Linked DNA regions of Homo sapiens. The protein of the gene in region 3 purifies or fractionates together with the protein of the main gene of each other region. This does not show direct contact. Each region holds a gene or a part of one and is shown on either strand. Other genes may lie near its edges.

Region 1 (7,758 bases), on a different chromosome or scaffold from region 3:
TGCTAGGAGCCAGAAAACAAAGAGGAGGAGAAATCAGTCATTATGTGGGAACAACATAGCAAGATATTTAGATCATTTTGACTAGTTAAAAAAGCAGCAGAGTACAAAATCACACATGCAATCAGTATAATCCAAATCATGTAAATATGTGCCTGTAGAAAGACTAGAGGAATAAACACAAGAATCTTAACAGTCATTGTCATTAGACACTAAGTCTAATTATTATTATTAGACACTATGATATTTGAGATTTAAAAAATCTTTAATATTTTAAAATTTAGAGCTCTTCTATTTTTCCATAGTATTCAAGTTTGACAATGATCAAGTATTACTCTTTCTTTTTTTTTTTTTTTTTTTTTTTTTGAGATGGAGTTTTGGTCTTGTTGCCCATGCTGGAGTGGAATGGCATGACCATAGCTCACTGCAACCTCCACCTCCTGGGTTCAAGCAAAGCTGTCGCCTCAGCCTCCCGGGTAGATGGGATTACAGGCGCCCACCACCACACTCGGCTAATGTTTGTATTTTTAGTAGAGATGGGGTTTCACCATGTTGGCCAGGCTGGTCTCAAACTCCTGACCTCAGAGGATCCACCTGCCTCAGCCTCCCAAAGTGCTGGGATTACAGATGTAGGCCACTGCGCCCGGCCAAGTATTGCTCTTATACATTAAAAAACAGGTGTGAGCCACTGCGCCCAGCCAGGTATTGCTCTTATACATTAAAAAATAGGCCGGTGCAGTGGCTCACGCCTGTAATCCCAGCACTTTGGGAAGCCAAGGCGGGCAGAACACCCGAGGTCAGGAGTCCAAGGCCAGCCTGGCCAAGATGGTGAAACCCCGTCTCTATTAAAAATACAAACATTACCTGGGCATGATGGTGGGCGCCTGTAATCCCAGCTACTCAGGAGGCTGAGGCAGGAGGATCCGCGGAGCCTGGCAGATCTGCCTGAGCCTGGGAGGTTGAGGCTACAGTAAGCCAAGATCATGCCAGTATACTTCAGCCTGGGCGACAAAGTGAGACCGTAACAAAAAAAAAAAAATTTAAAAAAAGAAATTTAGATCAAGATCCAACTGTAAAAAGTGGCCTAAACACCACATTAAAGAGTTTGGAGTTTATTCTGCAGGCAGAAGAGAACCATCAGGGGGTCTTCAGCATGGGAATGGCATGGTGCACCTGGTTTTTGTGAGATCATGGTGGTGACAGTGTGGGGAATGTTATTTTGGAGGGACTGGAGGCAGACAGACCGGTTAAAAGGCCAGCACAACAGATAAGGAGGAAGAAGATGAGGGCTTGGACCGAAGCAGAGAAGAGCAAACAGGGAAGGTACAAATTCAAGAAATATTGGGGGGTTTGAATCAACACATTTAGATGATTAATTAAATATGAGGACTGAGGAATAAGAAATGAGTCAAGGATGGTTCCAGGCTGCTAGGCTGCTTACCTGAGGTGGCAAAGTCGGGAGGAGTGGCAGTTTAGGACAGGGGGCAGTTGAGGAATATTGTTTTGATCATTTTGAGTTTGAGGTACAAGTTGGACACTTAGGTAAAGACTGGAGGGGAAATCTGAATATACAATTATGGGACTGAGGAACAAGTTTATTTTATTTTTTGTTTCGTTTTCTTGTTGAAGAACAAATTTAATTGTAATCCCAAGTCATCAGCATCTAGAAGACAGTGGCAGGAGGTGACTGTCTTGTGGGTAAGGGTTTGGGGTCCTTGATGAGTATCTCTCAATTGGCCTTAAATATAAGCAGGAAAAGGAGTTTATGATGGATTCCAGGCTCAGCAGGGCTCAGGAGGGCTCAGGCAGCCAGCAGAGGAAGTCAGAGCATCTTCTTTGGTTTAGCCCAAGTAATGACTTCCTTAAAAAGCTGAAGGAAAATCCAGAGTGACCAGATTATAAACTGTACTCTTGCATTTTCTCTCCCTCCTCTCACCCACAGCCTCTTGATGAACCGGAGGAAGTTTCTTTACCAATTCAAAAATGTCCGCTGGGCTAAGGGTCGGCGTGAGACCTACCTGTGCTACGTAGTGAAGAGGCGTGACAGTGCTACATCCTTTTCACTGGACTTTGGTTATCTTCGCAATAAGGTATCAATTAAAGTCGGCTTTGCAAGCAGTTTAATGGTCAACTGTGAGTGCTTTTAGAGCCACCTGCTGATGGTATTACTTCCATCCTTTTTTGGCATTTGTGTCTCTATCACATTCCTCAAATCCTTTTTTTTATTTCTTTTTCCATGTCCATGCACCCATATTAGACATGGCCCAAAATATGTGATTTAATTCCTCCCCAGTAATGCTGGGCACCCTAATACCACTCCTTCCTTCAGTGCCAAGAACAACTGCTCCCAAACTGTTTACCAGCTTTCCTCAGCATCTGAATTGCCTTTGAGATTAATTAAGCTAAAAGCATTTTTATATGGGAGAATATTATCAGCTTGTCCAAGCAAAAATTTTAAATGTGAAAAACAAATTGTGTCTTAAGCATTTTTGAAAATTAAGGAAGAAGAATTTGGGAAAAAATTAACGGTGGCTCAATTCTGTCTTCCAAATGATTTCTTTTCCCTCCTACTCACATGGGTCGTAGGCCAGTGAATACATTCAACATGGTGATCCCCAGAAAACTCAGAGAAGCCTCGGCTGATGATTAATTAAATTGATCTTTCGGCTACCCGAGAGAATTACATTTCCAAGAGACTTCTTCACCAAAATCCAGATGGGTTTACATAAACTTCTGCCCACGGGTATCTCCTCTCTCCTAACACGCTGTGACGTCTGGGCTTGGTGGAATCTCAGGGAAGCATCCGTGGGGTGGAAGGTCATCGTCTGGCTCGTTGTTTGATGGTTATATTACCATGCAATTTTCTTTGCCTACATTTGTATTGAATACATCCCAATCTCCTTCCTATTCGGTGACATGACACATTCTATTTCAGAAGGCTTTGATTTTATCAAGCACTTTCATTTACTTCTCATGGCAGTGCCTATTACTTCTCTTACAATACCCATCTGTCTGCTTTACCAAAATCTATTTCCCCTTTTCAGATCCTCCCAAATGGTCCTCATAAACTGTCCTGCCTCCACCTAGTGGTCCAGGTATATTTCCACAATGTTACATCAACAGGCACTTCTAGCCATTTTCCTTCTCAAAAGGTGCAAAAAGCAACTTCATAAACACAAATTAAATCTTCGGTGAGGTAGTGTGATGCTGCTTCCTCCCAACTCAGCGCACTTCGTCTTCCTCATTCCACAAAAACCCATAGCCTTCCTTCACTCTGCAGGACTAGTGCTGCCAAGGGTTCAGCTCTACCTACTGGTGTGCTCTTTTGAGCAAGTTGCTTAGCCTCTCTGTAACACAAGGACAATAGCTGCAAGCATCCCCAAAGATCATTGCAGGAGACAATGACTAAGGCTACCAGAGCCGCAATAAAAGTCAGTGAATTTTAGCGTGGTCCTCTCTGTCTCTCCAGAACGGCTGCCACGTGGAATTGCTCTTCCTCCGCTACATCTCGGACTGGGACCTAGACCCTGGCCGCTGCTACCGCGTCACCTGGTTCACCTCCTGGAGCCCCTGCTACGACTGTGCCCGACATGTGGCCGACTTTCTGCGAGGGAACCCCAACCTCAGTCTGAGGATCTTCACCGCGCGCCTCTACTTCTGTGAGGACCGCAAGGCTGAGCCCGAGGGGCTGCGGCGGCTGCACCGCGCCGGGGTGCAAATAGCCATCATGACCTTCAAAGGTGCGAAAGGGCCTTCCGCGCAGGCGCAGTGCAGCAGCCCGCATTCGGGATTGCGATGCGGAATGAATGAGTTAGTGGGGAAGCTCGAGGGGAAGAAGTGGGCGGGGATTCTGGTTCACCTCTGGAGCCGAAATTAAAGATTAGAAGCAGAGAAAAGAGTGAATGGCTCAGAGACAAGGCCCCGAGGAAATGAGAAAATGGGGCCAGGGTTGCTTCTTTCCCCTCGATTTGGAACCTGAACTGTCTTCTACCCCCATATCCCCGCCTTTTTTTCCTTTTTTTTTTTTTGAAGATTATTTTTACTGCTGGAATACTTTTGTAGAAAACCACGAAAGAACTTTCAAAGCCTGGGAAGGGCTGCATGAAAATTCAGTTCGTCTCTCCAGACAGCTTCGGCGCATCCTTTTGGTAAGGGGCTTCCTCGCTTTTTAAATTTTCTTTCTTTCTCTACAGTCTTTTTTGGAGTTTCGTATATTTCTTATATTTTCTTATTGTTCAATCACTCTCAGTTTTCATCTGATGAAAACTTTATTTCTCCTCCACATCAGCTTTTTCTTCTGCTGTTTCACCATTCAGAGCCCTCTGCTAAGGTTCCTTTTCCCTCCCTTTTCTTTCTTTTGTTGTTTCACATCTTTAAATTTCTGTCTCTCCCCAGGGTTGCGTTTCCTTCCTGGTCAGAATTCTTTTCTCCTTTTTTTTTTTTTTTTTTTTTTTTTTTAAACAAACAAACAAAAAACCCAAAAAAACTCTTTCCCAATTTACTTTCTTCCAACATGTTACAAAGCCATCCACTCAGTTTAGAAGACTCTCCGGCCCCACCGACCCCCAACCTCGTTTTGAAGCCATTCACTCAATTTGCTTCTCTCTTTCTCTACAGCCCCTGTATGAGGTTGATGACTTACGAGACGCATTTCGTACTTTGGGACTTTGATAGCAACTTCCAGGAATGTCACACACGATGAAATATCTCTGCTGAAGACAGTGGATAAAAAACAGTCCTTCAAGTCTTCTCTGTTTTTATTCTTCAACTCTCACTTTCTTAGAGTTTACAGAAAAAATATTTATATACGACTCTTTAAAAAGATCTATGTCTTGAAAATAGAGAAGGAACACAGGTCTGGCCAGGGACGTGCTGCAATTGGTGCAGTTTTGAATGCAACATTGTCCCCTACTGGGAATAACAGAACTGCAGGACCTGGGAGCATCCTAAAGTGTCAACGTTTTTCTATGACTTTTAGGTAGGATGAGAGCAGAAGGTAGATCCTAAAAAGCATGGTGAGAGGATCAAATGTTTTTATATCAACATCCTTTATTATTTGATTCATTTGAGTTAACAGTGGTGTTAGTGATAGATTTTTCTATTCTTTTCCCTTGACGTTTACTTTCAAGTAACACAAACTCTTCCATCAGGCCATGATCTATAGGACCTCCTAATGAGAGTATCTGGGTGATTGTGACCCCAAACCATCTCTCCAAAGCATTAATATCCAATCATGCGCTGTATGTTTTAATCAGCAGAAGCATGTTTTTATGTTTGTACAAAAGAAGATTGTTATGGGTGGGGATGGAGGTATAGACCATGCATGGTCACCTTCAAGCTACTTTAATAAAGGATCTTAAAATGGGCAGGAGGACTGTGAACAAGACACCCTAATAATGGGTTGATGTCTGAAGTAGCAAATCTTCTGGAAACGCAAACTCTTTTAAGGAAGTCCCTAATTTAGAAACACCCACAAACTTCACATATCATAATTAGCAAACAATTGGAAGGAAGTTGCTTGAATGTTGGGGAGAGGAAAATCTATTGGCTCTCGTGGGTCTCTTCATCTCAGAAATGCCAATCAGGTCAAGGTTTGCTACATTTTGTATGTGTGTGATGCTTCTCCCAAAGGTATATTAACTATATAAGAGAGTTGTGACAAAACAGAATGATAAAGCTGCGAACCGTGGCACACGCTCATAGTTCTAGCTGCTTGGGAGGTTGAGGAGGGAGGATGGCTTGAACACAGGTGTTCAAGGCCAGCCTGGGCAACATAACAAGATCCTGTCTCTCAAAAAAAAAAAAAAAAAAAAGAAAGAGAGAGGGCCGGGCGTGGTGGCTCACGCCTGTAATCCCAGCACTTTGGGAGGCCGAGCCGGGCGGATCACCTGTGGTCAGGAGTTTGAGACCAGCCTGGCCAACATGGCAAAACCCCGTCTGTACTCAAAATGCAAAAATTAGCCAGGCGTGGTAGCAGGCACCTGTAATCCCAGCTACTTGGGAGGCTGAGGCAGGAGAATCGCTTGAACCCAGGAGGTGGAGGTTGCAGTAAGCTGAGATCGTGCCGTTGCACTCCAGCCTGGGCGACAAGAGCAAGACTCTGTCTCAGAAAAAAAAAAAAAAAAGAGAGAGAGAGAGAAAGAGAACAATATTTGGGAGAGAAGGATGGGGAAGCATTGCAAGGAAATTGTGCTTTATCCAACAAAATGTAAGGAGCCAATAAGGGATCCCTATTTGTCTCTTTTGGTGTCTATTTGTCCCTAACAACTGTCTTTGACAGTGAGAAAAATATTCAGAATAACCATATCCCTGTGCCGTTATTACCTAGCAACCCTTGCAATGAAGATGAGCAGATCCACAGGAAAACTTGAATGCACAACTGTCTTATTTTAATCTTATTGTACATAAGTTTGTAAAAGAGTTAAAAATTGTTACTTCATGTATTCATTTATATTTTATATTATTTTGCGTCTAATGATTTTTTATTAACATGATTTCCTTTTCTGATATATTGAAATGGAGTCTCAAAGCTTCATAAATTTATAACTTTAGAAATGATTCTAATAACAACGTATGTAATTGTAACATTGCAGTAATGGTGCTACGAAGCCATTTCTCTTGATTTTTAGTAAACTTTTATGACAGCAAATTTGCTTCTGGCTCACTTTCAATCAGTTAAATAAATGATAAATAATTTTGGAAGCTGTGAAGATAAAATACCAAATAAAATAATATAAAAGTGATTTATATGAAGTTAAAATAAAAAATCAGTATGATGGAATAAACTTGAGAGTCCAGAAGTTATCCCATACATCTGTAATCAACTAATTTCTCACAAGGGTGTAAGGACCATTCAATGGAGAAAAAATGATCTTCTCAACAAATGGTGCTGAGCTAATTGGATATTACATGCAAAGGAATGAATTTGAGTCTCTACTACACACCATATATAAAAATTAATTAAAAATTCATCAAATACCTAAATATTAGAGACTAATTTATAAACCGTAGAGAGAAACATAGGTAAAAATGTTTATGGCTTTAGATTAGGCAACAGCTTCTTAATTATGACATCAAAAGCACAAGCAACCAAAGACAAAAATAAATAAGTTGGACTTCATCGAAATTAAAAATCTTTGTGCATCAAAGGACACTTAGTAAGAAAGTGAAAAGACAACCCACAGAAGTGGGAGAAAACACTTGCAAATCATATATCTGATAAGGGTTGTGATATTATGATATATATATAGGTTTTTGTCCATAGTTCCTGGCTTATAAACCCCCTCACCCTTGTTACAGTCATTTGTTATAAGGTTGGATGGTTTAGGCCTCAGAAGCAAAACTCTCTCTCTCACCTTCTCCAGCCCTCCTGTCTCTGGCACCTCATTCTTCCCTGAGGCCACATAGAAACTAGAATCTCTCTTCCACAAGGCGGTCAAAGAAACCAGCACCTCCTTTCCCCCAAACCAGTCATAAAACCTAAAAATATTACTCTAATTCCCCCTCCTTTCCATATAAGCACTGGCTATAAGGAAATAATCTGACTGGGCATGATGGTTACGCCTGTAATCCCAGCATTATGGGAGGCCGAGGCAGGCAGGTGCCCTGAGCCTTGGAGTTCAAGACCAGCCTGGGCAACACAGTGAGACCCCATCTCTAAAAAACTTAGCCAGGCATGGTAGCACACATCTGTAGTCCCAGCTACTCTTAAGGCTGTCTCAAAAACAAAAAATAAACAAAAAACTGACCTATCTTGTTGGA
Region 2 (7,582 bases), on a different chromosome or scaffold from region 3:
TGTCTCCCCCCACTACACAACTCTACCTAGAAGTTCTCTGCTGTTCTCAACCCTTAACCGGACTGGGACCTCTCTGGGAATCTTTCGGACCCTCTCCCTCCCACCTCCCCCAACATTCCAGTTCCTTCTTTTCCTTCTACTCTTCAGCGGCCTCAGCCTGCGCACCCCAGGAGCGTGGATGACTACGGCCACCCCGGGCGCGCACCCCTTTCCCACCACCCCAGCATCTCTGCAGCCCAGGACACCCGCCTCCCCCACACCCCGCATCCGGTGTGTCTCCGCCTGGCCCGGCCGGCGCGGCAGGCGGGCCAGGGGACCAACTGCACGGCCTCACCTGCTCTTCTCCACCATCCAGACGTTCAGCTACAGCTGGTGGGGGTGAGGGACTCTGCTCCGTGGCCGCCAGTGTGGGCTTCCCGGGCTAGCTCTGCGGCGAGGTGGGGGAGCCGAGTACGAGCCGGCAGAGGTGGGGCCGGCTGAGGGCGGAAGCGGCGGCGACGCGATTACGAAACCCGTCCGGCTCGGAGCCCGGCGCACTGCTCCCCTCTGGACTGCGGAGGCACTGCACTGCGCGGGACGTGGGAGGGTGCCTCTGCAGCCCCTCAAGGCCGCCGCCCCTGCGGGGAGAACTGGAGAATGCGGACACCTAGATGAGGCCCTGGCACCCAAGCTGGGGCCCCCGGAATCTCACGTTCCCTTTACTCGCCAGGCATTTCGGGGCAAAACGAAGCGGAGCCCCCCAAACCCCCAGACCTAACCAAGTTCAGAGATTCGCAGAAGCACGCCCCCCACCCCAAATTTATTGTGCTCTACCCAAAATGGAATAGGACTAGGTTTATTTACCCATTGTGAGGGTAGAGAGGCGAGTCTGGAGGAGCAGGGATTGGGAGAAGGGGTGGAAAAATACTCTGATTCTTAAAAATACTTTGTAACCTAAAGTCCTTAAATTGTGGAAGAAAGGAATACTCCTCCTTTCCATTGTAGTCTAGAGTTAAGATTTCAAATCCATAAATTAGAGGACCTAAAATTAGAGGGCAATTAACTGCTCATTCATTGGGCCCCCAGTCAGCACGGGGGTGCTGGAAGAGATCGGGAATAATAGCGCAGACCAATGAGCCTAGGGAGATGCTTTCATCGTCTCTCCTTCCCTCAAGTGTTCTGGAACCTATCATTTGAATTAGCCGAGTCAGGCAGGAGGGGGCGGGGAATCCTTCCGCCCTTCTTAGGAGGGGCTGCATTGCAGGGGGAGAGTGAACTGACAGACTCAGTCACTGAAGAGGGAAAAGGAGTGAGAAGACAAAGCCGTCAAAGCCCCAACAGCTTTGTATTTCTCCAGCCCGGCGCAGACCCCGGAGCTCCCGAGGCACTCCCTCCATCTTTGGAACACGCCAGTAATTGATTGATAACAGGTAAACCAAACTGAGGGAGGGGGCAGGGGGCTGCAAAGATAGAAGAGCGGCTGCTTATGGTTAGATTGAAAGACCCCACATGAGGTGGGGGACAGCTGAAGAGGAGAGAAGGGGGCGCTATGAACAATGGGTAGTTATTTCTTCACAGCATCCATGCCTTGTTACCTTATACAGACCATTAATCTCTAACAATTTACTTGTAGTTATTTCTCAGCACCTACCTCATTTCAAGTATCCTTTTCTGTAATTTATTGTCCTGTGTATTTAATATCTTCAGTCTACTTATCTTCCTTTTCAAACCATAATTTGTTTTACCAGCTGTTTAATTTTTAGTCCTACTGTATCTCTCTGTCCTCTACTTCCCTATACTTGCAATTTTTTTCTGTAGTGTTCTATGTTTCTCTGTAGGAGGGAGTTTGGGAGGGGGTTATATGGGATAATGTTGGGTGTAATCCTGACCTTTCTTTGGATAATCTCTTTCATTCCACCTCGAATCTTTGCTCCAAAGAAAGAGGCAGCCTAGGGTAGGAAAGGTGGGGGCCTCTGTGTTGGAGAACTGCCTGATTCCATAGTGAAATCAGTATAGCCCACAGGAGCTAGGTATGGGGACAGATTCTGGAAAAGAATGATTTGCAGCTCAGTGGAATTGGTGGAGGAATGCTAGTAGGAAAATCCAAGCTCTGACTGAGGCACACATTATGAGATGTCAGAGAGGTTCTGCTCCCCTCTACCACCACCACCACCTTGTCCTTCCCCCTTCCCCATGGTGGCAGCATGACACAGCAAGGCCCTGTTGAGTAGGCCTTGGATGCCCACAAAGGGTCTGGACAAAGGATATTTGGGCGTGTCTGTGTGGCTCCGAGAGTGTATCTTTCTAATCTATACATTTGCTAATCATGTATCTCTAAGAACAGAGTGATAATTAGATATTGCCTTTGCCTAAAATACCCGGATAATTTAAAGTGAAGGATAGTGGGAAGCATTTATTGAACATATATTGTGGTACAAGGCACTGTCAAAACCCTTTAAGTAAATGATACCATTTAAGATAATGAAAGATGTAAAGATAGATGAAGTAGGGCTGGAGAGCATTTGTGGAGGGGAAGGGGAAGCTAGCCAAAAAAGGATCTTTTGCGAAATTTGGAGTATTTGATAATTAAATCCATACTATATTAAATCAAAAATGTCATTACTACTTACATTAGTGAATAGCATTTTAACTTCAATTTTCTGTGTAGTATTACTTTATGTTCTTGACTTGATTTTAATGCCACGTATGTTTGCATGCATGTCTTTCTTGAATGTATTTGGTACCCTGTGTACATGTCTCTGGGTCAATGACATAGAGATTTTAGGCCTTTTGAGTTAATATTTCATAAAATTTGCTTTAGCTTTTTAAATTGCAAGATAGCTCTACCAAACACTCAGGGACTGTTTGAGCAGTTTTTTATACATACTCTGGTTGTAAGAAAAGGAGTCAGTTTGTCGAAGAGCTTTTTTTTTTTTCTCAGATTCTAGCTTGCTCTACTGCCCTTTGCTTTTCCCCATTCAGATCACAATTACAGGAACAATCACCTAAACCACGGAAAATCTATTCTTCAGCAACTAAAAATTCTTTTAAGTTTTGGGAATACTGGTATAGGGTTATATAAAGCTGTTGGCAACTATCCATGTACAACACAAAAAGGGATCAGATTGGGAATTATGAGATCTGGATTCTATACAAACTGGCTGGAAGTCTTCCCAAGTCATTAATTTCTAAGATGTCTTCTAGTTTTAAAATTCTATGATTTTTTCCCCCCATGATTCTATTTTTTTTTTTTTTTTAAGATGGAGTCTCGCTCTGTTGCCCAGGCTGGAGTGCAGTGGTGCAATCTTGGCTCACTGCAACCTCCACCTCCCCAGTTCAAGCGATTCTCCTGCCTCAGCCTCCCGAGTAGCTGGGATTATAGGCGCCTGCCACCACACCTGGCTAATTTTTGTATTTTTAGTAAAGACGGGGTTTCACTATCTTGGCCAGGCTGGTCTCGAATTCCTGACCTTGTGATCCACCTGCCTCGGCCTCCCAAAGTGCTGAGATTACAGGCGTGTGCCACCGCGCCTGGCCCCATGATTCTATTTTTTAAAGAGCCTATAATGTGGCCTGCATTATACTAAGCTCATTCTGGAGAAGACTTGTCAGGTAGGATAGAGAAAAGAACCCAGCTAGCTGTGAAAATAACTGGTAACAGTAAGAATCCCTGTAGCCACAAGTCCATAACAGTATTGACTCCTAGGTATGCTTCTTAGAATCTCTATAGTCCCAGATTTAAGCAGTGGGTGGTTGGTTAATGGATACAACCATTTTTTGTAGCTCTCTTTCTGCACACGTCTCTGCAAAGTACTATGGAGATTATCAGAGTTGAGTATCATAGGATGATGACCTCACCTTTCCAACATGCTCCCCGACCCTGCTGCAATCCCGGCATCACCCTCCTTCTAAGCAGCTTCTCTGCTGAGTAATGCTCAGTTCCCAGGGTTTATTTTGGAACTTAAACTAAGAAAAAGAACAACTCAGAATTCACTTTCAACATTAAAAACATCCTAGCCTACCCACTCACCATTCCTGAAGCCCCCACACTCTCACACATCACTGTGTTCTAGATTAACACTTTCTTTTTCTGCCTTAGTACAGTCATTTCACATTATACTGGAGCATTTTGGAACCTATTTAAGGCCATTATTTAGGAGTCTCTGGCCTGGTGAGACCCAATAGGGTGTGTTGGAGAAAGGCCTTTTGAAACTTGGGGTTCTGTTTTTGGAGGTGATAGAATGTTCTTTCTGCTCCTTTGGGAACATTTCAACTAATGCTTCTTTTTTTAATTTTTATTTATTTATTATTATTATTATTGAGACGGAGTCTTGCTCTTTCGCCCAGGCTGGAGTGCAGTGGCGCTATCTCAGCTCACCGCAAGCTCCGCCTCCCAGGTTCGCGCCATTCTCCTGCCTCAGCCTCCCAAGTAGCTGGGACTACAGGCGCCCACCACCGCGCCCGGCTTAATATTTGTACTTTTAGTAGAGACGGGGTTTCACCGTGTTAGCCAGGATGGTCTCGATCTCCTGACCTCGTGATCCACCCGCCTCGGCCTCCCAAAGTGCTGGGATTACAGGCGTAAGCCACCACGCCCGACCACAACTAATGCTTCTTGACCCTTGGCTAGTAAGTAGCAGGGTGGAGGCTGTAGGCAGCTCTAATAGTCCTAAAATATCAGGCAGGGCTTGGGTAGAATGAGTAGAGAAAGTGATAGATCCATTAACGCATGGAAGAGTATCTGATTCTGTTAAAATACCTTCTTCCAATCTGAACTTTACTTTAAATCCAAATGGATTTCCAATCCATTTGCTCTCATTATCATCAGTATACTCGAGCACTGGGATCAGAGAAAAGAGATCCCTGTTACAGCATAGGAAAGTTATTTATTTATTTATTTATTATTACTTTTTTTGAGATGGAGTTTCGCTCTTGTTGCCCAGGCTGGAGTGCAATGGCGAGATCTCGGCTCACTGCAACCTCCACCTCCCAGGTTCAAGCAATTTTCCTGCCTCAGCCTCCCAAATAACTGGGATTACAGGCATGCGCCACCTCGCCTGGCTAATTTTGTATTTTTAATAGAGACAGGATTTCACCATGTTGGTTGGGCTGGTCTTGAACTCCTCACCTCCTGATCTGCCTGCCTCGGCCTCCCAAAGTGCTGGGATTATAGGCGTAAGCCACTGCACCTGGCTAGGAAAGTTCTTTTAGCACCTAGGTTTTGTTCTGAAGGAGAGGTAGGCTAGAGAGAAATGGATTGTTAAGGCTTACCTGTGGGCTAATATAAGGGAATGGCAAGGTATTAATTAAATAGTGAGGGAAAGTTAATCAGCAGCCTTGAATGGCTTTGTGTACAAAGCCCACCACTTGTGTACAGAGAAAGTAGATTGGTCTTTACCCTTGGGGAAACTCCTAGGTATGGGGACAGATTCTGGAAAAGAATGATTATTTGCAATTCAGTGGAACTGGTGAGGGAATGCTAATAGGAAAATCCAAGCTCTGACTGAGGCACGCATGGTGAGATGCCAGAGAGCTTCTGCTCCCCTCTACCACCACCTTGTCCTCCCCCTTTCCCCATGGTGGCAGCATGACACAGCAAGGCCCTGTTGAGTAGGCCTTGGATGCCCACAAAGGGTCTGGACAAAGGATGTTTGGGCGTGTCTGTGTGGCTCCGAGAGAGTGTATCTTTCTAATCTACATATTTGCTAATCATGTATCTCTAAGAACAGAGTGATAATTAGATATTGCCTTTGCCTAAAATACCTGGATAATTTAAAATGAAGGATAATGGGAAGCATTTATTGAATATATATTGTGGTACAAGGCACTGTCAACCCTTTAAGTAAATGATACCGTTTAAGATAATGATAGATGTAAAGATAGATGAAGTAGGGGTGGAGAGCATTTGTGGAGGGGAAGGGGAAGCTAGCCAAAAAAGGGGTCTTTTGCAAAATTTGGAGTATTTGATAATTAAATCCATACTATATTAAATCAAAAATTTCATTACTATTTACATTAGTGAATAGCACTTTAACTTCAATTTTCTGTGTAGTCTTATTTTATGTTCTTGACTTGATTTTAATGCCACATATGCTTGCATGCATGTGTTTCTTGAATGTATTTGGTACCCTGTGTACATGTCTCTGGGTCAATGACATAGAGGTTTTAGGCCTTCTGAGTTAATATTTCATAACATTTGCTTTAGCTTTTTAAATTGCAAGATAGCTCTGCCAAACCCTCAGGGACTATTTGAGCAGTTTTTTATTCATACTCTGGTTTTAAGACAAGGGGTCAATTTGTCAAAGAGCTTTTTGTTTTTCTCAGATTCTAGCTTGCTCTCTACTGCCCTTTGCTTTTCCCCATTCAGAAGGCAATAAGGCCATCCCTATACATAAAATACATTAACAGTGATCTGTAATCCCAAACTGATGGAGTTAGGTAAAACTCTACAGGGTGTTGGGGGAGATGCTGGAGGAAATAGAGTAGATGAAGCTGAGTAAAAGTTTAAGGAAGTCATCTGCAAGAGGTGAGTTTATAGTAGGATTTAGAAGGCAAGAAGGAAAATAGAAAGCAGAAAAGTCACGGAAGGTCTTTTCACACATACCATGAGCTATTAAACCAAAGTCAGGAGGAAGTCAAGTATTTTTAAGTATAATAGGAGTTTGGGCTAGGGGAACGGGGGTTCCTCTATAGACTTGGAGTTTTTTGTTTGTTTTGTTTTGTCTTTTTGTTTTTTGAGACAGGGTCTCACTCTATTCCCCAGGCTGGAGTGCAGCGGCACAATCTCAGCCCACTGGAACCTCTGCTTCCTAGGCTCAAGTGATTCTCCCACTCAGCCTCCCAAGTAGCTGGGACTACAGGCGTGCACCACCAGGCCCAGCTAATTTTTTGTATTTTTTGTAGACGGAGTTTTGCCATGTTGCCCAGGCAGGTCTGGAACTCCTAGTCTCAAGTCATCCGCCTGCCTTAGCCTCCCAAAGTGCTGGGAATACAGGTGTGAGCCACTGAGCTCTTGAATGGAGTCCTGAAATGTGGAAAGTCTTTTTTTTAAGACAGAATCTTGCTCTGTTGCCCAGGTTGGAAGGCTCACTGCAACCTCACCCTGCTGGATTCCAGCAATTCTCGTGCCTCAGCCTCCCTAGTAGCTGGGACCACAGGCACAAACCACCATGCCTGGCTAACATTTTGTATTTTTAGTAGAGGCAGGGTTTCCCCATGTTGGACAGGCTGGTCTCAAACTCCTGGCCTCAAGTGATCCACCCACTCTGCCTCCCAAACTTCTGAGATCACAGGCATGAGCCACCACACCTGGCTGAAATGCGGAAAGTATTTTAAGGTGGAGAATGGAGAGAGTTAAGCAAGACAGGAATGAGCATAACTGTAACAGAGGATATACCACTGCTGGGAAGAATGGGCTAGATTTTGGAAGGCCTTGAAAATCAGACCCAAGATCAATTTGATGCAATAGATGGTAAATAAGTCATTCCAAGATGGGAAGTTTAGAAAATAGTAGAAATTCGGCCGGGCGCGGTGGCTCACACCTGTAATCCCAGCACTTTGGGAGGCCGAAGCAGGCAGATCACGAGGTCAGGAGATCGAGACC
Region 3 (7,758 bases):
GCTGGGTCTTACAGCTACGTGACTTTGGAAGGCATCAGAGGAGTTCAGACCCCAAGAACTCTAAGGCGTTCTCCCAAGTCAGAAACTTCCCTCTAAGCATGGAAAAGGAAAGGGACAAAAGGGTTTCTGATAAAGCATGCTCTTCAGCTCAGCGATGAAAATGGACAAAGACAGAAAGAAATGTTCGGAAAAAATGGGGGAGACGGTGGAGGGGAATGGAAACACTAATTTCTTCAGCAGTCCACTTCCATACGGGACTATGTAGAAAGTGAGCTGTCTCTTCAAGAGGAAATCTTTAAAGAGGAGGTTTTAAAAATAAAGTAAGCCAATGACTATCCTTGAGATTCATTCGCAGGCAGGGCTGTGGTTCAGACATGGCCTTCAGAGCCTACTGACTGTGCAGGACAGCAACCCCTTAGCTAAACTGCTCCAGGCTGCTGGCTTTTTGTGTTCCTGTTTATTCTTTTTTTTTGAAATACAGTCATGGCCAGGCACGGTGGCTCACGCCTGTAATCCCAGCACTTTGGGAGGCCGAGGCGGGCGGATCACGAGGTCAGGAGTTCGAGACCAGGTTGATCAACATAGTGAAACCCCGTCTCTACTAAAAAAAAAAAAAAAAAAAAAAAATAGAAAAACTAGCCAGGAATGGTGGTGTGTGCCTGTAATCCCAGCTACTTGGGAGGCTGAGGCAGGAGAATGGCGTGAACCCGGGAAGCAGAGTGTACAGTGAGCCAAGATCACGCCATTGCACTCCAGCCTGGGCGACAGAGCGAGACTCCGTCTCAAAAAAAAAAGAAATACAGTCATGCACAGCATAGTGACCTTTCAGTCAACAACATTTATGAAGATGGTTGCAAAGATTACACCAAACTTTTACTGCACCTTTCCTATGTTCAGATACTCACATACTCAGCATCGTACTACAACTGCCCACAGTATTCAGTACAGCAACCTGCTGTGCAGGTTTTAGCCCAGGAGCAACAGGCTATGCCACACAGCCTAGGGTGTAGCAGGCTATGCTATCTAGGTCTGTGTGAGTACATTCTATGGTGTTCACACCACAACGACATCGCCAAACAATGCATCTCTCAGAACATATCCCCTTCGTTAAGTTACATATGACTGGTTTTTCTGTCTCCCCATTCCTATCAGGTGTCGCTTCTTGCTGCTCTCAAGCCCTACTCCCCATGCTTCTGCTTCTAGCTTGCTGGGAGCTGGGAAACTGACCAAGCATGGAAAACTACAGGTAAGAGAAGAAGACCACGAGTTAGGCTCTCCCGGCAGGTAAATACCTGCCTGCAGGCAGGGCCATCACACCCTTGTGTGGCTCCAAAATCACTTTTTTAATTAATCCAATCCTCAGCAATGCTCATAACAGGCTAAAAGGCTCTGGGGAAGAAGGCATTTCAACAGCAGAAAAGAGGAAGAAGAGGGAGAAGAGAAAATGGAGAAACAAGAAATAAGCCAACACAAAAGAGGGGTGAAGAAAAGAGAGGGTGCAAAAGAGAACAAAGTAAAAACAAAAACAAAACAAAAAGGACAAACAAATCCCCAAAGAACTCTCCAACGGCAGGTTTCCTGGATGCTCCACCCTTCCTTATAATAAAGAAGGAAATGGATTTCTTGGGATTTGCCACTTCCTTCCCTCTGGGGCTCTTTCTCCACCACCCTCACTCCATTTGGCTCCCGGCTCCCTAGGCTGGGGTCAGCTGAGACAGCAAGGAACGCTGGCTCTTGGTGGGGCCCAGGACCTCAAATAGTCCACCCCTGGACAGGACAGGCTTTCCCAAAGAAGTTACACACAGATGCTTCCCAGCCCCGGCTCAGGAGGGCTAGGATCTGGGCTGTGACCACGTAAGGGCATCTTGGACACAATGCCAGGGTGTTGAGCTCACAACCAGTGGTCTGGAGCTTCGTGTAAACTGTGATCCTCAAACTCCTCCTTGAGGGAGGAAATGGGTGCCTTGGGAGGTCTATGGAAGCCTAAGGGAAGGTGTTTTATTTTAAATTTTCATGCAAATTTTGCATTATACTGCAGTGCTTCCCCCAATCCTGGATTAAGTATATGTATAAAAACACACACAAGTCTGGGCAACATGGCGAAACCCCGTCTCTACAAAAAGTACAAACATTAGATGGGCGTGGTGGCATGTGGCTGTCCCAGCTACTCGGGAGGCTGAGGTGGAGGTTACAGCGAGCTGAGATCACGCCACTGCACTCCAGCCTGGGCGACAGAGCAAGACCCCTGTCTCAAAAAATAAATGAACAAATTTTAAAAATAAATAAAAACAGACACAGATCAAATGACAAACCAAATGGGGTAAAATGTTAACATCAGACAAATCATATATGGATGGGCCTCGGACTATTTTTATATTTACAACTTCTTGTAAGCTTGAAATTGTTTCCAAATAAGTTTATTTTAAAACTCCACAAACCGATCAAGGCTTGGATATATAATTCTGCTTCCTACTATCCCCAGGAAAGGAGGAACCTGAAAGAATCCAAGAGAGGAAAGAGAAAAAGAGCACAAGGCTGGGAAGAGAAAAGCAGACAAGGAGGGGAAGGGGGAGAGGGACACGGAGGGAACAGAAGTCCAGGCCTCAGTCACCCCACCAGACTTGAGTCTTATCTCCAGCTGCCACTGCCCTGGGGGCAGGCTTATTGGTGGTTACCTCCCTGCCTGCCCTGAACCTACCCCTTTTGCACCAAACCTCAAATGGCCATAGAAAAAGGTAATCCCAGCCCCACGGCCAGTGAGGGGACTACAGCAACACTGCAAATGGCTGGTGCTGGGGCCCAGGCTGCTTCGGTGGCGTAGCCGCCACCACACCCATCCAGACATTCTTTGCTATGCACAGCTGACCTTAGTGCTATTCAGAAGCAGCTTCAAGTCAAGGTCCCTGGCCTGGCCTCTCTCCCTTCTCAGCCCCTTCTAGGCAGGTGCTCTGGTGCCCACACAAACCCTCAACTACAGTGAACACACCAACCCTCCTGGGAGATGAGTGCCCTGGTGTCTACAGGGGGGTTGGGGGCTGAGCTCAGGCCTCAGGAACCCTTTCGGCCTAGAGGCATCTCCCTCTGGCTCCCATGGGTGTGTGCAGACCAGCAATTCCTGTGGAAACCTCCAAGGATAAACTGATAGGCAAAGTCTTTCTTACAGGAAAATTCTATTTTAAAATGTAACTCATGTAATGAACAACAGAGGCTACAGGAACATGTGGATGAATCAGCACAAATCACCACTTGATAGAAAAACACCACCTATTAAGCTGTTTTCTTATACAAAAATAAATTTTTAAAAACTTAAGTTTAATTGCCAGAATTCATCTAAAATTCAGAGCCCCAAGATTCTTATTTGAGACTTTCCCCCCAACTGAATATTTTTTCTAGGAGAATATACAAGAACTTTATAAATTATCCAGAGTTATTAGGGACAGTTTTAAATTTAGAGAAAATCACATCATACTAATTTGTGTAACAGAATTTGACCTTAAATGTGAAATCAGGGGAACTATTCCCAACACAAAGAAATAAATACTCAAGGCGACAGATGCCCTAAACACGTGGCTTGATCATTACCCATTTTATGCAAGGGACAAAGTATCACATGCACCCCATCAATATGTAAAATATTATGTAGCAATAAAAAAATCAGGCTAACTTGCCAGAATTATTATGCCAAACATACAGAACATCAATGGAAACACACTTTGAAACATTACCTGCTTTGGATGTAATAACAAGAATTCGATTGTCCAATGTTTTTATCGTCTTCTTGAAGCCACAAAGAGCTTCAGAAAGCTGAATTTTCATTTTCATGATCAAGTCATGGCCTCGTCTCTGAAAGACACTATGATCCTTCTGATCAAGCACAATTATGACATCACCAGGCTCCAGCTCAGGCTCCTGATCTCCTTCTCCATGAAATAGTATCTTTTGCCCATCTTTCATACCTATGAAACATCATCCCTTTCTGATTAGCCATTTCTCATACAAACCATGCTTCCTTAAAGCTTTTGAAGAAGGAACAGAGTCCTTCAGGGATTCTTTATTCATCAAGTCTCCCAACCTCATGCAGGCACAAGGCAGGGAGGGGTGGCTAGGATGGCCAATGACAGAAGAGGTCCCGCTTCCCTTGGCATAATGTGGGGCCAAGCCCAGCATGCACAGGGAGTGGGGGAATGCGGCTCTACATCCCAGGTTTACACAGCACTCCCTGCCCAGGGCCTGTGATGCCACACCACCAGCATAGGGTCACCGCCCACTTCCCGGGGCACAGGGTGCATGACTTGGGACTGATAGGGACAGGTCAGCCAGCCCTGTCCTTTTCTAATAAGTCAGCTTGCACACTCAAGGCACAGGGTTTAGGCATGTTTAAACAGTAAGTCCTTTAATAACACCTGTGTCGGTTTGGCTGTTGATTCTTTTACTTTTGGTCTCATCTCTGATCTAGGATATATTTACTGGATTGGAAAGCCACAGAATCATCGGAATACTTGGAGGACAGCTAAAATGGAAAAAGGCCTTAAAATGATGGCATCAGGCAAAATGAATAGCAGGAGAAGGTGCTGTATTTGGGGGAATCTGATGCAGCACATGGGGAAATGTGGAGAAAGGGAACATGCAGCCACAAACACTTACACAAGCCCTTATGGCCAATGAGCATCAGAAGCGACCAGGAAGACACTCCGAAAGATTCTAGAGGAATGGCTTGAGAATGTCAGGAGATGGCAACTAACCCAAACCAAGGCCAGGTAAGACTTTCAGAGCGTTAGAAAACCTCATAAAGAGGCTGTCTGTGATCTCAAGGAAGTAAACCTCAGCAAGAACACTTTGGCAGGTGACATGGAATGGAAATAAGGCCAGGAAGGGTGAAGAGAAGACTGGGAAACAAGAGGAATTCATGGCACACCCAATACATGTTGTGATACAGCTCACTTCCCTGACATCTAGTCTGTGTATCTCACGATTAGCACCCAGACAGCATTTCCAGCCCGTGTGGAGCACCAGCTCTGCGCAGCCTCACCTTTTTCAACATGTACCTCGATAATCTTCTTCTCACGGATCACCTTGGCCCCGCTGCAGCTCTCGCAGCGGTCCTTGGGGTTGATGCGCTCACCCTGGCCCTTGCACTCGATGCACACGGTCTGGATCTGCTGTACCATGCCCGGCCCGATCTGCTGGATGTGGATCTGCATCCCCCGCCCCTTGCACAGCGGGCACTTCTCCACCGATCCCTTCTTCCCACCAACACCTGCAGGGTCAGGGGAGGCAGGAATGAGGGCCATGCTCTTCCCTTACCAGTGTCCCTGCTGGGCGCCATGGCAGAAGGGTAGGGAACCCTCACATTGGACAATGGGCTTAGAATTCTATTTACAATAATAAAAAACAATGCAGAAGAGTCTGGAGGAGTCCAGCCAAGCAGACAACATCCAGATGTTAACATCTGACCTCAAACGTTTGTGATTTTGGCTGCACCAATCCAAATTTATTACTTTAGCTTCATCAAATGTGTTTTCTTCCACCCCAGGTGGAACTCGCATAGGCCCACAGATGAATGAGGAGGCTGGGGCTGTGGCGATCTAGACAACACAAGCTCTGTCAATAGTGGCAGCTACCCAGCTCAGCCAATTCTCTCTGTGGGACAATGTGAGGCTGGGGTCACCAGACATGGCTTTTCTTGAAAACTCAGGTTTTTTAAAAATTACAATAATTATATATACATTTAAGTCAGGGGTCAAGAAACCATGGCCAGACTGCTTGGTTTTGTAAATAAAGCTTTACTGGAACATAGGCATGTCCATTCATTTATGTACTATGACGGCAGAGTGAACTAGCTACAAAAGACTCCATGGCCTGGAAAGCCTAAAATCTGGCTCTTTACAGAAAAAGTCTGCCAACCCCTAGATGAGGTCAAGTGTCTGATTTTTAATTTTTAAAAATAATTGTCTGTATACATATGTAACAAACCTGCACGTTGTGCACATGCACCCTAAAACTTAGAGTATAATAAAAATAAAAAATACAAAAACATAAAAAGAAATAATTGTCAACATGTCAAATAGAGGTGCAGCCCAAAGAAAACATTCATTCAGGCAAAGAAGTGTGGCCCTCAGGCCACCTGTTTGTAATCTCTGCTTGACCCTTGCATTTGAAAAAAGATAACTTATTTTCCCTGAACTATAAAACAAGCATTGTTTCTGAATCTAAGGGATCAGAACTGTGCGGTTCAGTCAAAAATTAATTTTTACCTTCACATTTCTCACAAATTACATTTTTCTGGAGGGCCAATTTCTTCGTGACTCCATTATATAGATCTTCAAGAGTTACAGATAACTGGTGTACAACATTCTTGCCTTAGCAAGGGAGAAAAAAAATTAGTGGCGTTGAATGAAATATACCATTGTATTAAATACCACCCATATGACCCTTAGTTGTATGAAGTCTCCAGAGACTCAAGACTGTGGCTGGGTCATGCGCTCCCTTCCCTGCAGGAAGCAATGCTTCTATTACCCCAGCCCATCCTTCTGGCCCTCAGCCAATAACAAGAGCTAATACCCTCTCTAGCTATGAGCTAATTATTCAATCATTTATAGAGGCCAACAAAAAGACTTTCCACCTTTATTTTCTGAGAACAAATCTGAGGACAAGGAGAGTACTAATTGAGAAACCAAAGGCAGTATTAACCCACGAAATTGGTTAAGTTTCCCCATGAAAGGAGTCCTTTCTATACATAAATGTTTGGCAGCCAAAGTCTCTGGATCTTTCACTTCCTTGGGCATAAAGCACTTTACTTTCTGAGCCCTTCTGTAACCGGTGGCCAAATGGGAATTCTTTCCTCTGCCAAAATCTTGCTTCTGCAACTCAGGACAGTGGGTGTTCAGTCCACAGGGTGGGGGTGTGCTCCAGCACCTGCCAGCCTGTCAAGACTGACAGCATCAAGACCCTCCCTGCTGCCCGTGGAGCTCCTGCAGTCACTGAGATGAGCTGTCCTGGTTTACTGGCTGCCAACTTTGAGAGATGACTTAATTAAGGGCATGAAGTTTTTCATCTCAAGACAGTGAGGGAGCTGGACAAGAGAATACCCAAGGTTTTTTTTGTTTTGTTTTGTTTTTGAGACAGAGTCTTGCTCTGTCCCCAGGCTGGAGTGCAGTGGTGCGATCTTGGCTCACTGCAAGCTCCGCCTCCTGGGTTCACGCCATTCTCCTGCCTCAGCCTCCCGAGTAGCTGGGACTACAGGCGCCTGCCACCGCGCCCACCTAAGTTTTTGTATTTTTTAGTAGAGACGGGGTTTCACCATGTTAGCCAGGATGGTCTCGATCTCCTGACCTCGTGATCCACCCACCTCGGCCTCCCAAAGTACCCAAGGTTTTATCATGTCCACACCATCAATTATAGGAGCAGGCGATATGCTCAAAGGACAGAGGAAGGATTTTTCCCTAATAAACACTTTGTGATTTTCAGCACTCTATGTTCACAGAATTGACACCCAAGCTTTTTCAAGCTCAAAGTCAATTACAATGTGATAACAAGTGCAGCTTCATTTATCTAGGGGCCTCTCACTGACCAAAGCCACACTTCTTAAACCCCAAGGCAGAGCTCATTTCTTCTGACTTTATCCAGAATTGTAATACGCTTGGTTATCTTTCTGGTTTCAAGATCCAAAGCAGCCTGACAACAGTAAACTAAACAGGGGGAATGGGAACTAGTCTATTAGCAACTACTAACAACAGAGGTGACAGCCCGTAGCCTGGC
Region 4 (7,758 bases), on a different chromosome or scaffold from region 3:
TAATAAATTCCTATAGAAAAGAATTTTTTCCAGGAAACAACAGACTTCAAAGACATATCAATTGGGCAGGGCCAATTGATCCTAGCACTTTGGGAGGCCAAGGCAGGCAGATCACCTGAGGTCAGGAGTTCAGGACCAGCCTGGCCAACATGGTGAAACCCCATCACTACTAGAAGTACAAAAATGAGCCAGGCGTGGTGGTGCACACCTGTAATCCCAGCTACTCAGGAGGCTGAGGCAGAAGAATTGGTTGCAATTGGGAGGTGGAGGTTGCAGTGAGCCAAGATTGTGCCACTGCACTCCAGCCTGGGTAACAGACCAAGACTCCATTTCCAAAAAAAAAAAAAAAAAAAAACAGATCAATTATATTAAATTAGCACTAAGCATCTTTTTCTTCCAGAATTAAGCCATCAGGTTTCCCCAAAAAGCAAGTCAGTTTAACATTCAAGTTCCAAATGCATCTTTCAAATTACACTTAGCATTCTACAAGATTTAGCCTTTTTTTTTTTTTTTAACAGCTAAGCTCTTTATATTCTTCTGTAGCTTCTCTAATTTCGCAGTGAGAGCTAAGGGTTTACATACAGATGACAAAAGTATCTTTGATAAAGAGTTCCAAAAGCTAACTGGAATGCAAATCCTAGAGTAAAACCATCTCACCGAGTAGACACGGTAGCTCAAAAGGAAAGAAAACGAGTATGCTAAAGGGATTTTCTATGTGGACTACATGCCTTATTGAAGCATGCTTATAAATATTAAAGTGTCATTTTGACTGCATTCATTTCAAGCCTCATTCAGAGACCTCAAGGTCTGAATCCCCCACAAGATGTCCCACAAATAGTAGTGACCAGGTTGTCATCATTCCCTGGAAACTGGGAACTTGCTTAGGAGCAAGATTCTTTTCTAATTGAGGAAAGCAGGGAAAAAGAGATTGACCAGTTTTGCCTTAAAAAGAGTATCACAAACCAAATTTTACCATTCGAACCCTTCATTTAACTGTAAGAGAAAATTACTGTTTTTGATTTAAAATGCTTTACCTGAATTTGAAACAAAATATTTGCAATAAGGGCTTATAAGGCTCATTTATTTTTTTAAAAACCTGTATCATTTAAATGTTCATAACATAGTGTCACATGAAAAAAGGCACAAAACTATATATATATATGTATATATATACATGTATTATATATGTATATATATATATGTGTATATATATATGTATATATATATGTGTGTGTGTGTATATATATATATATATATATATATATATATATATATATGGATTCTATTTTTCAAAAACTGTATATTACTGTATACGCCGTAGTTATCTTCCAAAAACAGGACACTGCTTTTATCCAAGGACCTCACAACATCTGGCAGGAATCTCTTGTTATTTCATTTGGCTTGAACAAAATAGGGTAGCAGCTGTCCTATGTTACTAAACAGCTTGGGGTCACAGAGGATCATTTTATATTAGGGATATATGACATGTATGTATGCTTTCTGTATTTATGTTTTATACACACCGAGTATATATATATATATATATAGAGAGAGAGAGAGAGAGAGAGAGAGAGAATATGTATATGTGCATAAAATATAGAGTAATATATGTGCATAGATAAAAGCTGGAAAAGATAAATGCAAAATGAACAGTGATTACTTCCGGATAACATGAGAGCTACAATTTAAATTTTCTATTTTGTTATTTTTTTTCCTTTCTACAAAAAAAGCTAAAATATTTATTTTTCTATTGTACTGAACTGGTTTCAATGGCAGAACTCTTTCCTCACATGGTATACCTTTCAGGTTCCACTATGGAAGAGTAATTTTCAAGTTCTCTGCCATTTTTCTAAAATTGTCAACATTTCCAGGTACTCTGGTAAATTTGTTTTAAGGAAAAGGAAGCTTAAAATGTGATAATTTCCTAATCAACACTTCGGTACTGCAAATCAAATCCTTAAAGATTTACCTTCATCATACATTTCCTCTATCAAATAGGCCTCTGCTCGATCTTTCAGGGCATTCACATTGTCAGGTTCCATCTGTAAAACTTCAGAACAAACCCTAATAGCTTCAACAGGCTTCTCGTCCTAAAAGGAAATGTGAGACAAGGATTTATGGTTGGTATTCCACATGTTGAGTTTTCACATTTCTGGGAACAAGTCAACTGTTACCTTAGAAAAGCAGTGGCAAATCCTCTCCTTTGAACGAACTGTATATTCAGCAATGCTTGGCTCTGTTTTCATGACAGATTCATATTTGCTGGTAGCATCTGTGTATCTAAGAAATGAGCAAATCATGATAAGAAATGATGACATTTGATTTCCAGAGCTGTAGAAAGGCTCCTCCCCTCTTCACCATGTGTTGCTTAATCAATCCAATTGGATGAGCCCATGGCTTCAGATTCGGCTTTTCCCTTATTAATCTAGAGTCCCATAGAAGGTACACTCCATAATTAAGAGTTAGGAAATAAAAACATATGACCATAGGAGATGCAGATGGACAGAACAAAGCATACCTGTGAGTATAAGTACCAATCAAACCAGAAGAATTTCCTTACAGAAACATTGCTCAGAATTCCAAACCTGAGTAAAACACCCTGTTGAAGTCTGACTTACACTGAGCACCTTGAACAATACAGAGATCAAGTTTTATTTCTTGGTCAGTAAACACTTCCATGAAAATAATGGAACCCATTACGTGCCATTTTATATAATTAATGTCAGTATTTACAACAAAGTACAACGTAGTTCACACAAAAGGTACCTGATTAAATTCCCAACTGTATAAGCTTTCTAAGAATAAAAGCTATTTCAGCATTTTCTTTAAACCAGTAAAAAGTACTAATCCTGTTATATACTCAGTTATTTCCCTCAACAATAGTAAAGTAAAAAATATGTTTCTATGCCATGGTGGCACACTATTCCCAAAGTGCTACAATCTTCATATGTAAATATGCCAATGTATTAAAACACAGGCTTAACTAAAACATTTAAAATAAAAGCCAGCTTCTCTATCATCCTCAGCAAACTAACGCAGGAACAGAAAACAAAGCACTGCATATTCTCACTCATAAGTGGGAGCTGAACAATGAGAACACATGGACACAGGGAGGGGAACATCACACACGGAGGCCTGTGTGGGGCAGGCAGCAAGGGGAGGGAGAGCATCAGGACAAATAGCTAATGCATGTGGGGCTTAATACCTAAGTAATGGGTTGATAGGTGCAGCAAACCACCATGGCACACGTTTACCTATGTAACAAACCTCCACATTCTGCACATACATCCTGGAACTTAAAGAAGAAAACAAAAAAGCCAGCTTCTGGGAAAGTGGAATAGATGTATTTGTCCCAAGTGCTCCAGCTAAGCACAACTAAAAAACCCTAGAGATTATATGTATATTTTTTAAAATAGAAAACTTTCAAAGGAGGAAAAGAGACAGACTAGCTAGTGACTCAGGACCTGAGGAAAACATGGTAAGACGTTCCCTGGGTTCTTTTTTTTTGTTTCATATATCCCAGACTTGGAGCTGAAGATTCCAGCAATGCAGAAACGCCAACAGGTACAGAACGACAATAACAAAAACCTGCAGAAGTCTGCTCTGTCTAGCCAGAGGACCTGAAAAGGACAGACTTGCAAACAGAAAACATTTTTTTTAGAGACGGAGTTTCGCTCTTGTTGCCCAGGCTGGAGTGTAATGGCACAATCTCGGCTCACCGCAACCTCAACTTCCCGGGTTCAAGCGATTCTCCCACCTCAGCCTCCGCAGTAGCTGGGATTACAGGCATGCGCCACCACGCCCGGCTAATTTTGTATTTTTAGTAGAGACAGGGTTTCTCCGTGTTGGTCAGGCTGGTCTCAAACTCCCAACCTCAGGTCCTTCAATGGATAAATGGTTAAACAAACTGCAGTAAATCCATACCATGGAAACTACTCAACAGTAAACAAGGAGGAATTATTGATACAATATGGATAAATCTCCAGACAATTCGAATGAGGGGGAAAAAAGCCCATCCTGCCAGCTGTGGTAGCATGCATCTGAAGTCCCAGCTACTCAGAAGGCTGAGGCAGAAGGATCACTTGAGTGTACTATGACTGTATCTGTGAACAGGTGGGCAACATAGTGAGATTGTCTCAAAAAAAAAAAAAGCCAATCCCAAAAGTTTATACATTGTATGATTCTATTTATGTAACATTCTTAAAATGACAGAATTCTACAAGTGAATAGATTAGTGGTTGCCACAAGCTAAGGAAGGGATAGGAACAAGAGGGAAGTAGGTGTGGCTATAAGGGCAACATGAGGTGTCCTTGTTGGGATGGAATTATTCTGTATCTTGACTGCACCCACGTCAATATCCTGATTGTGACAATGTACTATAGTTTTGCAAGGCGTTATAGTCTGCAAGATGTTGGGGGAAACCGAGTGAAGCATTCTCATGATGGCAACTTACAAAGCTACTAAAAGTAGAGGAATTGGAGCCTATTTTCTATTAGGCAGTTTTGTCTGCAGTGCCCTCTACTCTTTTCAGTCCTCCTGCCCAGCCTATAAACCCCCTACAAACAACACTCACACAGACACAGCCTCTTACTTCTGTCCACTTTTACTTATTCTTTAGGATTAGGATTTAAATATCTATCACCTTCTCTAAAAAAAAAAGCTCCTCTTTTACTCCTTGCCTTTACCATCCTGGTTTGGAGTAAATACTCCTCTTTGGTACTCCAATTATCCTATGTACATTCTATCACTTTGGTATCATATTGTCTTTTAATAATCAATTCATATATTTGTCTCCCACGCAATGCTATAAACTTCTTAAGAACAAAAACTATTGTCAAGTTTAAGTCTGCACCCTCAGTACATAGCTCAGCCTGATATAGGAGATAATAAATATTTGGTATAGTACAAGTAATTCTGCTGGTAAGGATACTACACAGTTACTATTATTTATATTCTTCCCTATTCCAAAAATGTCCAATTCTGGTAGTTTTGCTAAGGCCCAGGGCTATCTAGAATACCCCACCCTCAATGGCTGAGAAGTAAAAGAGCAGTTCTGTAGTTCACTTGTGCCCACAGCCCCGCACATAAGGAATGGCTGGACAGTTGGAACAACCATATTCTCACCTGCCATCTCTGATGAGCTCTTCAGCTGACTCAATCAGCTTATTAAGTTTCTTTACTTGTTTATAGTGTGCAAAACACCTTTTATGATCCTGGTCAAGTTTAAGACATTCCCGAACTTCACTGTTCATGTATTTAAAAAAGGAAAATACTCCATGTCAAAACAATCAATGAGTAGTTTTCCACAGAAATCACAATAAAAGTATTTTTTGTTTGCAACGATTAAACAAAAACCATACTGAGACTTATAATTTACTATATACATTTATACGTGGCATTGTACCATGCATACATTTGTTAATTCAAATTAAAATGACTTACTAGCATTATATAGTAAACATTCCATTTTGTTTCTATAAATATAAGAGCCTTCCTGTTTAATAAGCAGCTTCATGAAAACAAACTATGTGGAATTAAAGTAACTTGGGAATAACACAAAATATATAAATGGATATACAATATAAAAACAGCCTTAACTACCATCATCTTATTAATTTAATATTAAAATGTTAAAACAAGATGAGGTAATCTTACTGCCAACAATTAAAAAAGATCAGACATGTGTGTCACTAGAACTGACCTGAGGGACAGTTCGTGGTCTCCTAGTTGGTAGTACAGTGTGCTTATTTTATAAAACGCTTCAGTATTATCATTCTTCAACTTTGACGCAGCTTTTAAGTCACTTATAGCTTTCCTAGGTTCTCCTTCTTTTATAAAACATTCAGCTCGAAGTTCCCGTAGTTCTGCATCCCAAACACAAACCTTGAGGAACAAAAGAACTAGACTTTAAGAAAGAATAAATTATGCACATTCATTGTTGCATTCCACGTATTTTTTATCTACGTATTTATCAACATAAAACATTCTCAATTGATGTGATGACTTATATAGTGCAAATATTATTTTAAAATCTGATACAATTTAAATGTGACAAAACTGATGTGACAAAATAGTTTCTCCAAAAATGTTGTAAATGAATTCTAATGGGGGAAGAGATATATATAATAACAAGGCCCTTTTCTTACCTCCTTCGATTATATAATTCTAAGACACTGAAAATAAGAAAACATAGCATTTACTATTGGAGGGTTGTTCCTAGTGAAGCATATTTGAAGAGAATATTCTGTTATCAGATTTTTATACTTAATCAACAATTCTAATTTGTAGTCAAAAAAATAAAACCTAGGTTCTACATTGGCAAAATACTTTTTTCTGCTAATAACCACATTATGTTCTTAGCTGGGCACATTGACTCATGCCTGTAATTCCAGACCAGCTTAGGCAGCAAAGCAAGATCTCATCTCTATAAAAAGTTTAAAATTATTAACTGGGTGTGGTGGAACACACCAGTGGTCCCAGCTACTCAGGAGGCTGAGATGGGAGGATCACTTGAGTCCAGGAGTTCAAGGTTACAGTGAGCTACAATCGCACCACTGCACTCCAGTCTAGGTAACAGAGAGAGACCCAGTCTCTAAACAAAAACCTTTTTTAAGAAATTATCTTCTGTAAATGTCACCGCCTTAAAAGTAAATCCTCATATCAAGAAAAAGAAAGAAAGAAAGAAAAAATACCGTGAGAGGGCAGGAGGTTGAGGCTTCACCATTCCTATTTTATCAAAAAGTCCATAAGGGTTTAGGAAACACAATAGTATTCTTCAAATCATAAACCCAAGAGCTCATCAATAAGGCTGGTGGAAGTATCTTTGCATATTTCTTAGAGCTGCTCTAAAGTCGTATCGACTTTTCACATATACAAAAATATCAAAACCAACATTATACATAAATATCATGGACAATGAACTAAGTTCAAAATGGATAGTCTATGGGAATGTAAAAATGTAAACTATATTTCCTTAAAAAAGCATAAACAAAATAACCCAGTAAAACATGAATTCTACTGGACCATATCACAATATCTTCTGTAAAATTATCAACAAATTGCCCATTCTACATACATCATAAGTTTAGAGCCAAAATTAAATGAAACTGTATATCAAAATACTGTGAAAATCACAAATAAATGTGAATTACGACTGCTTCCATTTGAATATTTCAGTAGACTTCCTTCGGAAATCAGTTGTCATTAAATCCTTCAGAGGCAAGGAAACCTAGACTCAGGTTTCCCTAGCTAGAACTCTCTGGATCCTATCAACCATTATTATTATTAACTTTTTTTTTTTTTTTTGAGACGGAGTCTCACTCTGTGGCCCAGGCTACAGTGTAGTGGCTCACTGCAACCTCTGCTTCTCAGGTTCGAGCGCCTCAGCCTCCCGAGTAGCTGGGATCACAAGCATGCACACCACACCCAGCTAATTTTCTTTTTTTTTTTTTTAGACACAGGATTTTGCCATGTTGGCCAGGCTAGTCTCAAACTCCTGGCCTCAAGTGATCCACCCACCTCGACCTCCCAAAGTGCTGGGATTACAGGCATGAGCCACCACACCCAGCCAATTATTAATATTTTTAGAGGCAGGGTCCCATTCTGTCGCCCAGGCTGGGGTACAGTGGAGCAATCACAGCTCACTGCAGCGACAAATTCTTGGGCTCAAGTGATCCTCCAGCCTCAGCTCCCAAGTAACTAGGACTACAGGCACATACTATCAACTCTTTATCTGCCTTATTCTCTAGAAATTTTTCT

Evidence for each region.
Region 1: the proteins of DNAJA4 (region 3) and AICDA purify together in Homo sapiens (co-immunoprecipitation; one study listed by IntAct). This does not show direct contact.
Region 2: the proteins of DNAJA4 (region 3) and MLLT11 purify together in Homo sapiens (affinity purification with mass spectrometry; one study listed by BioGRID and IntAct). This does not show direct contact.
Region 4: the proteins of DNAJA4 (region 3) and DNAJC3 purify together in Homo sapiens (affinity purification with mass spectrometry, with the first as the bait; one large-scale study listed by BioGRID). This does not show direct contact.

What each region holds. Positions count from the first base shown.
Region 1 is NC_000012.12:8,601,194-8,608,951, reverse strand, and holds the end of AICDA (single-stranded DNA cytosine deaminase), read left to right. Parts: intron 1-1,939; coding exon 1,940-2,087; intron 2,088-3,466; coding exon 3,467-3,737; intron 3,738-4,029; coding exon 4,030-4,145; intron 4,146-4,614; coding exon 4,615-4,668; 3' UTR 4,669-6,782; downstream 6,783-7,758. UniProt on the Homo sapiens protein: Single-stranded DNA-specific cytidine deaminase. Involved in somatic hypermutation (SHM), gene conversion, and class-switch recombination (CSR) in B-lymphocytes by deaminating C to U during transcription of Ig-variable (V) and Ig-switch (S) region DNA.
Region 2 is NC_000001.11:151,059,145-151,066,726, forward strand, and holds the start of MLLT11 (protein AF1q), read left to right. Parts: upstream 1-1,252; 5' UTR 1,253-1,409; intron 1,410-7,582. UniProt on the Homo sapiens protein: Cofactor for the transcription factor TCF7. Involved in regulation of lymphoid development by driving multipotent hematopoietic progenitor cells towards a T cell fate.
Region 3 is NC_000015.10:78,271,696-78,279,453, reverse strand, and holds part of DNAJA4 (dnaJ homolog subfamily A member 4), read right to left. Parts: intron 6,360-7,758; coding exon 6,255-6,359; intron 5,797-6,254; exon of another isoform or gene 5,258-5,796; coding exon 5,030-5,257; exon of another isoform or gene 4,354-5,029; intron 3,957-4,353; coding exon 3,726-3,956; intron 1,247-3,725; exon of another isoform or gene 654-1,246; intron 1-653.
Region 4 is NC_000013.11:95,758,165-95,765,922, reverse strand, and holds part of DNAJC3 (dnaJ homolog subfamily C member 3 precursor), read right to left. Parts: intron 5,884-7,758; coding exon 5,702-5,883; intron 5,245-5,701; coding exon 5,125-5,244; intron 2,281-5,124; coding exon 2,175-2,280; intron 2,091-2,174; coding exon 1,970-2,090; intron 1-1,969. UniProt on the Homo sapiens protein: Involved in the unfolded protein response (UPR) during endoplasmic reticulum (ER) stress.